Linked DNA regions of Homo sapiens. The protein of the gene in region 1 interacts with the protein of each later gene in a pairwise test. Each region holds a gene or a part of one and is shown on either strand. Other genes may lie near its edges.

Region 1 (8,023 bases):
CTATAAAAGACTTTAAGAAATGATTTCAGACATAAAGGGAAACCTGATCAACTTAATGTGGTTAAAAATATATATAGTAAAAAGGTAATACATATTTTAAATGAGACTTAAAATAAAAGCTAATACCTTAACTTATTAATCACCACTCATTATCACTGCTACCAGAGACTTTAGTATAATATTCAGAACAACAAAAGAGACTTCTTTAAAAAAAAAAAATAGCAAGATAGTAAATCCAAAAGCCATAAAGAAAAATGTGATGGAAACCTAACCACAAAAAATAAAATTTTGTTTAAGGCAAAAGACATCATTAACGAGTCAAATATTATATATGAAAAAATACATCAATAACAAAGTCAAGAAAAATAAGAATAAAAAAAATTTGCAAAGCACCTGACAAAGTCCCAATATAAAATTATTACAAAGAAATGAGAAAAAGACAATCCAATATAAAATTGGGCGACTGACATGACAATTTATTTTAAAAAGTGTAAATCAATTAGTTTGAAAAGATGCTTAAGCTCGTGATGTTTCAAAGAAGTGTCATTTAAACAATATGCCATTTTCAACCACTAGATTGAAAAAACAAACAAACAAAAAAAAAACTTGTTATCACCCAGTGGTGACTATTTTGTATTTTGTATGGCTCATGAGTTGCTGGTGAAAATATCAACTGCTAAACCATCTTGAAAACTATCAATATTAATATATTGAAAATTAACATTTACACTAGTAAAATTATTTTGAATTAATTTGTCAATACTATGCCACTAGTAAAAATACTGAAAATTTTCTATATCTATTGACTCAAGGCTGACCACTTGAGAAATCAAGATGCAGATTAAGTATACAGTATGTTTTGGTTTTCTTCTTCAATAGCAGTCTGGTAGACTTTCTTCCTAGATAACTTTTTCTGAACCCTTAACAAGACTATAAAAAGTATGTCTTGTTGTTACACTCAGATGGATGCTCTGACCCAGCATTCCTTTTGTTGTCCCCGGTTGTTTTCTCTGCCCTCCTTGCAACAAAAGCAATGGGTATTTGGACAAAAGATTACAAAGCAAAAGTAGCATTGTTTTTGCTTCATCTAATAAACTATAAGCACCCTGAAGGCAGAATTAAAATGTATCTGCCTGCTTGCACATGGTGGGTACATAACAAATATTTGTTGACTGAATATGATATAGGCATGTTACCTTATACGAATTCATTACTTCAATAAAATTTTATTGAATACCCACTGTGTTCCAGATCATATCCTAGATGCACCTAAGACATGGTACCAGCCATGAGGAGCTCACTGTCTCTGCTCACCCTCTCTTAGATAGAGCCACTGATATAAACAGTTACAATAACATATTGTAATAAATTCCGTAGTAGATGAAAGTACAAAGCACAAATTACTTTTCCTAAGAAGAAAGGATAGTTTAGAGAAGTTTTACAGAAAAAAAAGAGCTTTTAGATTAGAAATAAATCTTAAAGGACACAATATGGCTATAAGTGGTTCTAAGAATGAGGGCACTCATTCAGACAACCTGGGCTCAATTCTGGCTCTTCTATTTATCAGCAGTGCAATCTTGAGCAAACTGTTTCTGCTTCTACGTTAAAGAAATGGGGGTAAAAATAATACCTACTTCAAAGATTGATTCTGAGGATTCACAAGATACTACATGTAAAGTAATTAGCACTATGTACCAATCAATACATTGTAGTTTTATTACTATTATGACATTATTACTGATGAATAGGAGTCTGCCAGCTACCGAAGAGGTTTAGGGAATAAAGAGGATTCCGCATATCTGAGAAAAGGTGAATGTGCAGCCTATGAGAAATGTCACTTCTAATAATGCAACCTCCTATGGAACAAAAATGCCACCCTCCTTCAAGATGCCCTCCCAAGCCTGTTCCCCCATGGAGCTGGCCACTCCTTTGCACTTTCAGACTGTATTTCTTATGCTTTTCTTATGGCTTCAACTTCAGCTTCTCTTTAGTTGAGTGCATTCACCTGTCTAGGGAGTGCATGTTCATTGTCACGCACTATGAAGGTATAAGGTGATAATAGGCTTAAATCAGACTCAAGTTCATGACTACGATATAGGAAGGGTTATAAACCCCCACAAAAGGGGTTTCTAAGAACTGCACTTGGAGTTGGGAAATTCTACTTACTTGCTGACATAACTCGCCTTCTAGAATGGAAATAGCCAGAGCACATAGCCCGGTTTAGACTTGCAACACCTGGTGGAGACACCTTATTCATTCATTCGACAATTTACCAAGCACTGTTCAAGATTACAAAGTTTAACAGGACACGATGAAGGGAAAGAAAATAGACATATAAACAAATGATCACAACATCTTGTGATCAGTGCTAATAACAGCACTTTGGACAAATTGATTCAAGTTGCCCAGAGGGCGGAGCGAGTAATGCTAATACACAATAAGCATCCACAGGCTGAGCGAATGACCTTGAGGAACTGTTTGGCGTCAGCTACGGCACTACAAACATGACCAAAGCCGCACGGGGCCCAGGATGCCCGGGGCTACTGGCTTCGGGTGCCAGCGTCACTTGTACTCGGTCAACACACGTGCACAGAGCACCTACTGTGAGCCAGGCGTGACGCCAGGGTGACCAAGGCGGGGTCCGCAGAGTAGGGTCTCAGGGCGACCCCAGCAGCCTGGAAACGAGGCGGGCTTCCCATATGTCACTTCTAAGTAGGATATTGGAGGAATGAAGAGGTCTAAATGACACGTTAAGGTAAAAGCTGAGCCCGCAACATGCGGGCAGTCCACCACCGCGGGATTTGGGGAGGGGGCAGGTCAGCCCCCCCAGGAACCCTCAGCCAGCATCCCGAGGACCCCGCAACTCCTCTAACCCCAGGTCCAAGCTCACCCGTGAATCAGAACTTACCGGAGGCCACGGAGGCTGTTACCGCGAGGAAACTCTAGTCCTGGCGGAAGACCAACTTCTAGCAGATCCCCTTACCCTGGCTCTAGTCCACTAGCTCCTTCCTAGTCACAACCGAACTCACGGGGCGGAGGCCCTTAAGGAGCACTCGCATCCTTCAATCGCCGACTAGAAGCTCGCCCGGTGGGCGGAGCCGTGCCAGCTCAGGGCAGAGCGAGGAGGCAGAAGTCTCCGCCTTCCTCAAGCTTGGTTGAGAAGTCCACCTGCAGTTGCAAAGTACGGCTGTTTGAAAGCGGGCGCCAGAGGTGGCGGGAAGCTCCCCCTGTGCGCCCATTGGTGGATTCGAGAGCCAATTACGAGGAAGTCACCCCGGAGTGGGCGGGCTGATCGGTTGCCTAGAGACGCCGAGGCGCTTCACCCGCTACCTTCGGCCAGGGTGCAGCAGTCTTACGGGGACCCCTTGCCCGTTTGGTACCGGAGACTGCAAAGGTGACTCGTGCCTCCTGCGCTTCAGCACACAGAATCCCGCAGATTCCCCACCGAACTCTTGCCTTAGAGGTTTTTTACATTTGCCCTTGTTTTCTAAGGCGCCTGCTTCCCCATTATTTAACAGCCTTAGATATTTTGCTTTGTCTTCTACCTTACTAGGTGCCGCTTTGTTTACATTTTTGCTTCTTTAATTACTGATAAGATGGCACATTTTTCCACGTGTCTATTTACTACTCTAATTTCCTCGGGTGTGAGTGTTCTTGTCACTTAGGTGTATATTATTAACCTGCCCCTAAAGACAGCGCCACCCAGTCCTCAGTAAAGCCCAGTACTGTGTCTATCTTCTCTGGCTGAAAGGGTTCCAGTGAATAATCAAGGAATTGGTGGCGGCAGGTTCACATATCCTTTCAACCCTTTCCCATGTGTACTGGCACGGAGTAAAATGGTTGTTCGAGGCTCTTCATACTGTGGCTGGTTTTCCTTTGCTACTTCACCGTCCGCCCCCATGATGCCTACACTGACCCCTGTAACCCCATAAACTGGTATAGGGTTTGGCAAACAACAGGTAATTTAACCCACTGTAATAGAATGAACGAAATCACAGCCTGAGCTAACAATGGTTCCCAGAGCGCTTTTTTTCTTTCACCTGCTGTGAAAGCTGTTTCTTTCACCTGCATCGCCTCTACCTTCTCCTGCTACTTAGTTTTGAAGACAGACTAGCACCTCCTTTGAAGCCTTTCATGACACACACTCCCTCACTTCGCAAAAATGATCTTTCCTACCTCTGTACACAGTGTATCCTATATATCCTATTATAGTTCTTTTATCTACTGTAAGTTTTTGTGTGTCTTACACTCAGTACAACGTGAATATCTTGAAGTACTCACTTTACTTCTTGGGTGTCTAACATGACCCTGGTAGGCACTCAAAACAATTATGTTAAATGAGTAAATGAATAAATGAACAAATAGATGAAGATTTTGGCAGGGGGGCAGGCAGAAAAAGCAAATAAAAGGCCTTCAAGTAAATGGCATTTGTTGAATCTGAGCCAAGGCATCTTAGTGAGAATTAAATGCACTTTTCACTTTTCACATCCCACTGAAGTCGATTGGCAAACTGTATGTTGCATTCTGTGCTGAGGGTTATGATGGAGTGCTGCAGCAAGAATGCCAGGTGATCCCCATGCACAAACAACTGCTTCTTAGAAGGATGAAAGCATAAAACGTGTCAGGGTAAGCACATGAGGAGGCAGTGTTTATAATCCATTACACAGTGCTTTACAGATTGGTAAATTCTTTCACAAGCATCATCTCATTTGGTTCTCACTACAACACTGTGGGGGGTTAGGACAGGTATTCCTACCCATTTTCCAGTTGAAGAAACTTACATAAAAATAAATTAAATGACTTGTCCAAGGCTACACAGCTAATACAAGGCAGACAGAATCTGAAACCAGGTCCTTTATCTCCAAACCCAGAGCTCATCACTACATACAAAATATTTTAGTGAGACTAGCATATACGTGACAAAGAGGGAAAATAAAGAATAAATCAACCTCCCATCCTGCCATGCCTCTAAAAATGGTTTTTGGTGGAGTTATGGATATATTCAACTAAATTTCTTTGACCACCTATCCTGTTTAAGTCCTGGCCTAGGTGCAGGGTAGGACCCCTATGCTCAAGGTACCAACACTCTGAGTTACAAGATGCTTACGTAGAAAGATAAATAATAATAAAAATTGTTTACTAAGTGTAATAAGAGTAGAATAGGCAATAATTCTAGGGAAAGTGAACACCTAAAGATGAATCTATCAAGGCAGGTTCAAGGAAGAAGAGAAGGAGAGAGCTCAACAGGTCAGTTGATTAGCATGAGTGCAATTTAAAGGCCAGACCAGCAAAAGTGCAGGAATCTTACATTTAGATGTAAGTCTGGAGAAGAAGGCAGGAAGGAGGTGGTCCATAGAAGAGCTTTAAGCCTGGGAGAATAGGAAGGGCATTCTACAGAGGTCAGGTAATGGTGTGCACAAGGAATGAATCTAACATCCAAAGAAACACAAGCAGACAGAGGCATTCTGGGATAAGAAAGGCAAGTGTGGGAGAAGAAAGTAAAACTGCCAAAGATCTCAAATGCTGGACAAAAGATTATTTGTGAAACGTTGGCTCGATGTTTACCTTGCATGTTTTAAATGGGCACACCTATGAGCTGGGTGAGACATTTCAAGAGAAAATGTCACATTGTTGATGAGATGGGGTCCCTCCCACTAACAAGCATTTATAAAGGTAAAGCTAAACCATTATTTCTCCTTTTTCCTCCTTTTTGGTGTCAAAGCTATCAGGTCAAAGCAATGTCATCACAGGAGTGCTATCCAAAGTGCTATCATCAAGGAGTACTATCTTCAAAGGAACACAGAACTTAGAGTAAGAAGATCTGAGTTCAAGTCCCAGTTCTCCTACCTACTAGCATTGTCCATAACAATTTAACACTCAAAAGCCTCAAAGTCCTTATCTGAAAATAGGGATGATAATACCCACTTCTCAGGATTGTGGCCAAAAAAAAATGAGATGAGATTGTGAGAAACAGCTTTTAAATGTAAAAACATTATTTTCCATTGTGTTTCTATGTACTATGGCTTATTGGATTAGAGTACACACTGGGGTCTGAGGTAGTAAGGAAAAACCAGGAAGGTGTTCTGGGAGTGGATGGCAGAGAAAGACAAGGGTGAATGTGTGCCGAGGGCAACAGGAGCTTATGGGATGGGACAAACAAAGAGTCTACACAAAGGATATGGCTTCATGAGAACAGGACAAAAATAGGAAGTGCTAGAGATGGAACAGGAGTACTTGGAAAGAACCAAGGAAGATCAGACCATTATTTACATCTTATTCAACAGTATTTTGGGAACACCTACTTTGTGCCAAACACTGTGCTGGGATCATTTAATATTGACATGTGGATCAAAATGCCCACTCTGCTCAAGTCCCTTCTCACAGAATCTGCTCCTGCTCACAGTCATTATGACCTCACCACCATCACCATCCTACCACCCACGGTCCTGGCCAGACTTGACTGAATCAAAGGGGAACACTAGACCCAAGCTGGGCCAATCGTATTCCCTTCCCAGATAACTAAGATTCCACAAAACTGAGCAAGGTGGTAGCCATACAGAGGAGAAGCAGACTTTTATTACACTTGCCTGTATTTTATGGGAAATATGCTTCCTCCATAACTGTGTCATATACATGGTAGACCCTAGACTGAAGATCATGAACTTTTGCCACTGAAAGCCATGTATCTGTCTGGTTCCTGTACTTTGAAAAGCCAGACAGTTTAGCTTTTCCTTGCATTCTGTGATAACTAAACCTTAAAAACTTTTTGACTTGAGCTGGCTTGGGTCATTGTAGAGGTTGAATCATGTTCCCTAAAATTTCATGTCCACCTAGAACTTCAGAATGTGACTTTATTTGGAAATATGGTTTTTGCTGATACAATTGTTTAATATGAGCTCATTCGGGATTAAACTTAGGTAAAGCTAAACCATCATTTCTCCCTTTTCCTCTTTTTTGGTGTCAAAGCTATCAGGTTAAAGCAATGTCATCACAGAAGTGCTATGCAAAGTGCTATCAGCCTTAAGTCTAATGACTGGTGTCTTCATAAGAAGAGAGGACACAAAGAGACACATAGGGAGAAGACAGCCATGTGAGGGTAAAGGTGGTGATTGGGGTTAGATTGCCATAGGCCAAGGAACGTCTGGGGCCACCAGATGCTGGAAGAGACAAGAAAGGATTTTTCCCTAGAGCCTTTGGAGGGAGCATGGCCCTACCACATCTTGATTTCAGACTTCTATCTTCCAGAACTGTGAGAGAATAAACTTCTGTTGTTTGCGGTATTGGTTACAGTAGCCCTAAGAAGTTAATAAAGGTAGGTTTACATTCTTGGCAACCAAACATTCATGACTAAGATACATTTTTAGTGATTATATTTGAAAAGTCTAGACCAGTGATACTCCAAATAGGGCCATGGTCCACTGGTATACCTCATTTGTATTAAATGATACAAATGCCCAAGGCATTTCTTCAATTATCATAGGAAAATAATTTGTAGATTTTTATTTTTACATACAATTAGAAATCCACCAAGTAAGATATAGGAAGTTACTAATGTTAAGAATTTGTAAATTAAAATGAGTGCATTTTTCGGGTTTATCAAGAATGATCATCATTTGGATGTGCAATATTACAAAGCTCTTGCTCATGCACAGTTGAAGGTAATTGGAATTCCCAGTTTTGGAAGGAGGATGTTAATAGCACCATTCCCCCAGGAAGTCATGGTCTTTACGAGCTGTTATTACTGTTTATTTATTAACTATGTTTGGCTTCATCAATATCAAGTAAGCTTATTGTGAGTTGTTTGATTAAACCAACTCTATGTAGTGTTAACTACTTTAAATATTTTCACTTTTTCTATAGCGACTTTAAAATAATATACATTTGGGTGGGGCGCCATGGCTCATGTCTGTAATCCCAGCACTTTGGGAGGCTAAGCCCGGCAGATCACCTGAGGTCAGGAGTTTGAGACCAACCCAGGCAACATGGCGAAACCCCGTCTCTACCAAAAATATAAAAATTAGCA
Region 2 (7,028 bases), on another chromosome or scaffold:
TGAAAAAAGAGTAATTATCAATATGATTATTGAGATAATTACCTATGTAACAAGAGTGCTTTCACATATATCTTGCTTTTCACAACAGCCCCGTCAAAGGCGGCCTTATTCCTATTATACAGATGACTAAAACAGACCTGGAGAGCTGAAATCATTTGTCAACCACCGCAGAGACAGAGGGCAGCAGAGCCTGGACTTCAATCTGGATTTACCCATGCCACAAGAGTACAGTTTCCACCTCGCTAGTAACATACATAATATAGCACTAATAATGCCATTTTGATTTCTTCTATAAACTGTTCATAAAGTATTCCATTAGAAAAAGACAGTTGTTTTTAGTTGGGAGATTCAAGGAGCACCTCTCCCCATCAATCACCCGGCTAGTGAAATGGGGAAGGCAGAGCTGAGACTCTCAGGGGAACAGTGGCAAAAAAGGTAGGAAAGGAGATGGTACCATGCACTTGTAACTTTTGTTTATTTTTATTTATGTTTTTCCTTATTATTTAAACCATACTTGCATACCAGAAACTCCTAATTCTTTTTATTTGCACAGGATAAGATCTTCTATTAAAAACAACAAATCTCCAGGTGCTCCAAATGAGAAGACAGAGACCTAGACATGATTCAGTTCCAGAGTATTGTTACAGCGGGCACGCCTTGCAGCAGAAAGTGTACCTCCATATTACTTCAGAGAGCAATCAAGAAACTGTTCGATAAAACAAAACCCTACTAAAAATTCACTGTTGTGTTATCCCCTAAAAAGGTAGTTTGAATGATCATCTCTCCATTTGACTAATTTAACTTGGCAGTACAGAACCCCTACCTAGCACTGTTCTCCCAGTCCATCTGGGGTAGTAATTAGCACAACTAGGAGAATTTAACTTACAACCCTGTGCTCTGTTATTTGAATGTCATCCTTTCTACCAGCTATTATCAACTGACTGATAAAGGTCACACTTTATTCATAAAGATTTTTTAGAAACAGAAATAAATTTAACTTATAGATTTATAAAACAAATGGTCTTAAACCTACCAATCCTTTAAGACCTGTTGGCAAGAGAATCAAATCACAGAGTATGTGACTACTATATTTAGAATGAGAGCATCTTTCTCCAAATTCAGGGTGTCAGCTTATGAAAGCTATTTTCTTCATTCCCGAAGTGCCATTCTTTTATGTAATTTTACATAAACCTGCAGATGTTAGACTGACAAAGGGACTTTCATTTCGCTGGGGGAGACTTAAAAATGTGCCATTCAGTCAATAAGCAACAACTGCTTTTCAACATACAATATCCAGGAATATCTATACTTACTGAAAGCTCATGACAGTTTCACATTCTTTTTGGGGTAGGTACTAGGTTATTAAGGGCCAGTAAGCGATGCCTACCTCCATCCAAGCTGCGAGACATGGTATAACGTTTGCTGGATGAGCGTTCAAAGTAAGGTGCTGGGCGATCTATCAACGCACTGGCTCTTCTCGTTTGCGCTTGTGTCCTGCCACTATAACGAAACTTGGAACCCAAGGTTAGGAATTTCTTGGGAGGTGCTTCTGGTAACAGTAGTCTAAAGAGAATAAAGAAAAACAGCAGAAAGACTATTAAGTCCAATATTGAGAGTGCTTTTTAAACTTTTTACTCTGAGAGGTCATGTGTTTTGCATGCTAAACATTTAACGCACAACTTGCAGTTAAATAAATCTGATTTCATAAAAGAATGCATATAGTATATATCAACTAGGGATATTGTAGAGAGGATATATGCAAATGAGGGTTGTACTGAACTAGATGAATTTTTAACATTCCACGCAAAGTGGACAGTCTATGGTTCTATAAGCCCAAACAGCTACTAAATAGTTTGATATTAGTGAAGAAGAAGAGTGACAATTTGGTGTTGGGTGCCTAATTTGATGGGTCTCGTACCATGCATAGGTAGGTAAAGGGATTCAGGGTATTGAGAAATCACTGAAATAGTAAGGAATTGAAATAGTAAGGAATGGATTGGATATTTGAAGTGGACACCCTAAAAATAATGTAAACACACTAAAGATACTAAAGAAGGGGGGTTTGGGACATGTAAGTACATGACAAATTAGGGAAAATCCTTCAAATTTAGTCTTTTTCTAGTTCTCTTAGGATTTCTTATCAAGAAATATGGTGACAATGAACTTGAAGGGATAGAAAGAATAAAATTCCATATTTTTTATTGACAATCTTTTTCAGTATAAGTGATTATAATTATTCCTTAGGGAAAAAACAAAATAATCTCTTCCTACCTGAAAAATGTATGATGCTCAACACATACTTTCCATAAACGCTTGGCAGCTCGATGGTTTGGCAGCTTAAACCCAATGGTGCTTTCAAATTGTTCAAACTAAATAAAAAAAAATACATTGAAGAGTAAAGTTTAAAATTATAAATAACAGAAGCCCTGTAAATAAATTACAGAATCATGATGCCACCAGAATTTTAAAAATTTACTTACTAGATCAATTGCTATATGCATAATTCATGCTATACAGATTCATTTGTTAATTTCAAAAATGTGTCTTTAAAATGCTGCAGGTATAAATAGCCACTTTATGCATACAGTAAAATGTCTTCTGAATAAGTGTGTATCTTATGATACAACTGAAAACCAAACACGAAAAGGGGTTTTTTTGATTTCTTCCAGAAATCAATTTGCCCTGATATCACTTTTAAACTTTTATTTTCATGGTTTCTCAATGACACAATGACTTCAACTGCAAGGTACAGAAATGAACAAAATGTTTACAAATATAGTCTACAGCATTCTTAGAAATGAGACTTTTCTCCTAATACCTGGGCAGGAAATATGTGTATTTCTTAGGTAGTTGATAACTTGGTGTCAGAGATTGCTGATTTTATTTGTGTGTTCCGCTATGGATTATCGTGTTAAATGCTAACGTCTCTCTATATCATACGTAAGATCAGAGATTGGGGGAACATATTTTCATATTTTTCAGCATGTACACTTCAGATGATGCCTTATCAGCCATTTGATTTTTCGAGGTGAAATACTCATCTCATTTCCTGCATAATATACTTTATTACTGCAGATGCACAGGTTTTCACATTCTGAAGAAGGTACACATCAGACCACCAGAGGGCAATCATCTTAAACAGTAAAGGCTTCCCCAAAGAGCACACAATGGGTACTACTGCTATAATCAATAGCAAAAATCATTTATATGGCAAAGAACCGAGGTGAGGGGTCATATGCATGGCATGTGAGATACAATCATGTTTGACCTCTATTTCTTGTTTGTTGAGGATGATTAGGGGAAGTGGGAAACACATCACAAATGCTTCAACCGCAATTGCCTTTCCCAACTTCTTATTCACTCTGGATGTTCATGTGCAGTGGTGTTTGTAAAAATCACTACTGTCTAAGGGACTCAGCCAAGACAGACATAGTGTGGCTTGTGACTAAATCATCATCCATTTATTCATCCTGCAACTAATATGCACATATTACGCCAATGCCAGGGGTTATATGGAAGAGTCAGCTTGCACTCTGCTGCAAGAAGCTGGGAAGAGTCTCTGCCAACCTCTGTAGGCAAGGATGATGCAGGCTCCTAGACTACCTGAATAGGTATTAATAGTTTATTAATATCTATTTCTCTGTGTTTTATATCAATTTCTTTCAACTTCTTCAGAGTCTGTGTGTCTCCAATTTCTTCTCACTCACTTTTCTCAGGCTGTAAATAGGATTGTAAAAGCAGAGAGAAGAGGAGTGAAAAACCAGCTCTCTCTGAGCCTGCTTATGCCAGCACCACAACCCCATCTCACTCCTCACTGCTAAACTTTAGGAAGCAGAAGCCACGACCTGCTGCCTCTGCTACCTACTCCTGACCTCAACACACCTGGCAGGTGCTCCTGTTGCCCTTCTGAACTCTGAAATGTCATCATGGGGCCTGACTGTTAAGTTCAACACACTTTTGTTAGTCCACATCCTGCGTGCCCTTTCTGTAACATATGATACTGCTAGCTAACCACTTTCCTCTGAAACTCATCTCCTGGTCATCCATCAGCCTGTTTCTTCTTTTATTTCTCTGGCTGTCATTTCTTCAGCTCCTTGGCCCTTTCTCAAATAGTGGTATTATCCAGAGTTCTAGTTTTGGGCCTTTTCTTTCTCTAACTTGCCTTGCTCTTTGAGTAATTTATTCCATGTCTAAGGCCTTGAATAAAATATATACAGTTGATAACTCTGTTCAACTCCTTCCTATGCAAGAGTTACTCCCTGAAAATCTGTTTCAAAGGGATTTCAGTTGTTTTTCTGAAATTTTCCCCCTTTTCCCTCCTGCCGAATGTCATCTCCATTGGCTTCAATCATGCAAACTGAAAACCTTTGATTATCCTGGACTTTTCCCTCTTTTAATTACTTCCTCTATCCTGTCTCTACGACCTGCTGCTTCTGCCTCTGAAACCTCTCTCTTGCATTTGTTCCCTCCCGTCTATTCCCACAGCCTCTGCCCTAGTTTAGGTCTTATCACATCATGTTTCTAAGTCGTTGAATTTCATTAAGAAATGTATCATTCCAAAATATTCACCTAGTTGTGTCACATCCTGATTTAAAACCTCCCATGACTTACTAGTTGTCCACTGATTCATTTCTCTAGCTCTCCCCTCTGGCATCTCACAATACTATGCTCACTCCATGTCTACAGAATATCATCTCATTTGCATCATGCTGTTACAATCAAAGTATATGAGTCCGTTTTTCTGCTAAATAGAAAATCCCTTAACAAGGAACAAGGTCATATTTGTCTTTAGATTTCTAATGTCTGACAATAAATAGGTGCTCACTTAACAAATGTTCAATGAAGTCAAATGACTATCTATTGGCTATAAGTTTAATATACAATCTTTAGGAAATATTTTTAAAACACTATAATTTTAGTTATTTACATGAAAAGCTTACAGATTATTTCAGTTATCATAGATAGGTATGATGTTATGTTCATACTAAACATCATTACATGCTTTATGTTTCAATTTTTTTGTTATTTTTGAGACAGGGTCTTTGCTCTGTCACCCAGGCTGGGGTACAGTGGTGTGATCAAACTCACTGCAGCCTTAAATCCTTGGGCCCAGGTGATTCTCCCACCCTTGGCCTCCCAAAGTTCTGGGATTACAGGCATGAGACACCATGCCCAGCCGATATTCTGATTTTTTAAATTGCATTTTCCACCAAGAAACTCCAGTAGAGAAGTAGATTTTGAAGATAAGAGATAATTCTATATCATATCAGAAAATGTTCAGAGATATAAGTATGCTAGAATCTTTGAGCTTTGACTGCCTCTGTTATACTAACCATACCAATTAGAAATTTGAGGTATTTATTAACTATCTCTTAAGTAAATAAGAGTAGATATGTGTTACTATTATGTACAAACCACTAAGGAAGATATAAACGTAAGTTGATCATGGAGGCTGTTGTCCAAGGAGTAAGGACTAGTTAACAATTCTGATTGTCTCATTAGCTTCTCTGACTTAAAACAAACAAACAAACAAACAAACATATATTGAGCTATAGAACATTGATATAATTCACACTAATTGTCCTTTGTTCTAATATTCCTTGTACCTTGAAGTACAGGACCTCTAAACTGTTCACTTTAAAGTACAACCAGATTTGCAGGACAAACAGAAAGAGCATGGAGAAATAACAACAGCATGTGGAGGAAGAGATTTATCCATTACTGCTTGAAATATACACAAAATTATTAATGATACTGGAATTTTTTTTTTTTTGAGACGGAGTCTCGCTCTGTTGCTCAGGCTGGAGTGCAGTGGCACGATCTCGGCTCACTGCAAGCTCCGCCCCCTGGGTTCACGCCATTCTCCTGCCTCAGCCTCCCGAGTAGCTGGGAATATAGGCACCTGCCACTACGCCCGGCTAATTTTTTGTATATTTAGTAGAGATGGCATTTCACCGTGTTAGCCAGGATGGTCTCGATCTCCTGACCTTGTGATCCACGCCCCCACCCCGCCCCCGGCCTCCCAAAGTGCTGGGATTATAGGCGTGAGCCACCGCACCCGGCCGAGACTGGATTTTATATTAAAATATGTTTTTAAAAACCCTCCAATTAACGTATGCAGTAGGAAATATTGGAACAATATAATAAAGAAGAGAATATTTATTACTGTTTATTGGGCAAACCTACAATAAACTCTCTCAGGCACTTAGATGTCATTCACTGTGTCCCACAATGCTCAGAACTCATAAGCAGATAATTTAAATGCTTGCTTGCTATCAGGGATCTTTCCTCCCAACGCACAGGCAAATGTGGGTATACTTACCTCTCCCGGCCGGATCTTAATGTAAAAGTTGTTCCGTTTGTATGAAATCTTTAGAACCTTGGGCCAGGCAAATCTGTTTATTCGCAGCCGGTCGCGATATATCAACAGACCACTTGCACAAACTCCTAACATAATTTCTACCCCTTCTGAGTCCTGGAAAATAAAAGCAAGAAACAACAGATCAGTATCTAACTTATTTCCATTTTCTGCTGGGTAAAGTATTTAAGCATCCACGACAGAAACTATAAATGGCTGGTTTACTTATGCAAAATGATGCAGCCATTTTTAAAACATTACCATTAAACATTAGCCTTTTGGTGAAGATGTTTATCACTATGGAGAGGTTTGTTAGAATAAAATCTGCTCTCCCAGGTGTCTCAGACTTACAAAGTAAATACTGCACACCAAGAGGGCCCAGCTCATGAAGGTATGTTAATAACGGTAATAATAGTAGCCACAGTTCTCACTTGTCAATTGCCAGGCACTGCTCTGCTTTACATATATTAACTCTTTTAATATTCACTGTAATTGAGATGGTCACTATTATTATTCCCATTTTACAGATGAGAAAATAGGTACAGAGTTCCAGCTGAACACAGCCTGGTTCCAGAGGCAGCACTCTTAACCAACACGTATGCTAACAAGATGGACCCTGTCTTTTCCTATGAGGGTTTTGGTTGTTGTTCCTTTAAAAAGAGCCCCGATA

What was found. The genes of interacting proteins can lie anywhere in the genome.
Region 2: the proteins of CEP152 (region 1) and EPB41L3 interact in a two-hybrid assay, tested with the Homo sapiens proteins (one study listed by BioGRID and IntAct).

What each region holds. Positions count from the first base shown.
Region 1 is NC_000015.10:48,808,053-48,816,075, forward strand, and holds the start of CEP152 (centrosomal protein of 152 kDa), read right to left. Parts: upstream 3,018-8,023; 5' UTR 2,909-3,017; exon of another isoform or gene 2,879-2,908; intron 2,756-2,878; exon of another isoform or gene 2,646-2,755; intron 2,543-2,645; exon of another isoform or gene 2,167-2,542; intron 1-2,166. UniProt on the Homo sapiens protein: Necessary for centrosome duplication; the function also seems to involve CEP63, CDK5RAP2 and WDR62 through a stepwise assembled complex at the centrosome that recruits CDK2 required for centriole duplication.
Region 2 is NC_000018.10:5,421,991-5,429,018, forward strand, and holds part of EPB41L3 (band 4.1-like protein 3), read right to left. Parts: intron 6,476-7,028; coding exon 6,323-6,475; intron 2,370-6,322; coding exon 2,272-2,369; intron 1,564-2,271; coding exon 1,388-1,563; intron 1-1,387. UniProt on the Homo sapiens protein: Tumor suppressor that inhibits cell proliferation and promotes apoptosis. Modulates the activity of protein arginine N-methyltransferases, including PRMT3 and PRMT5.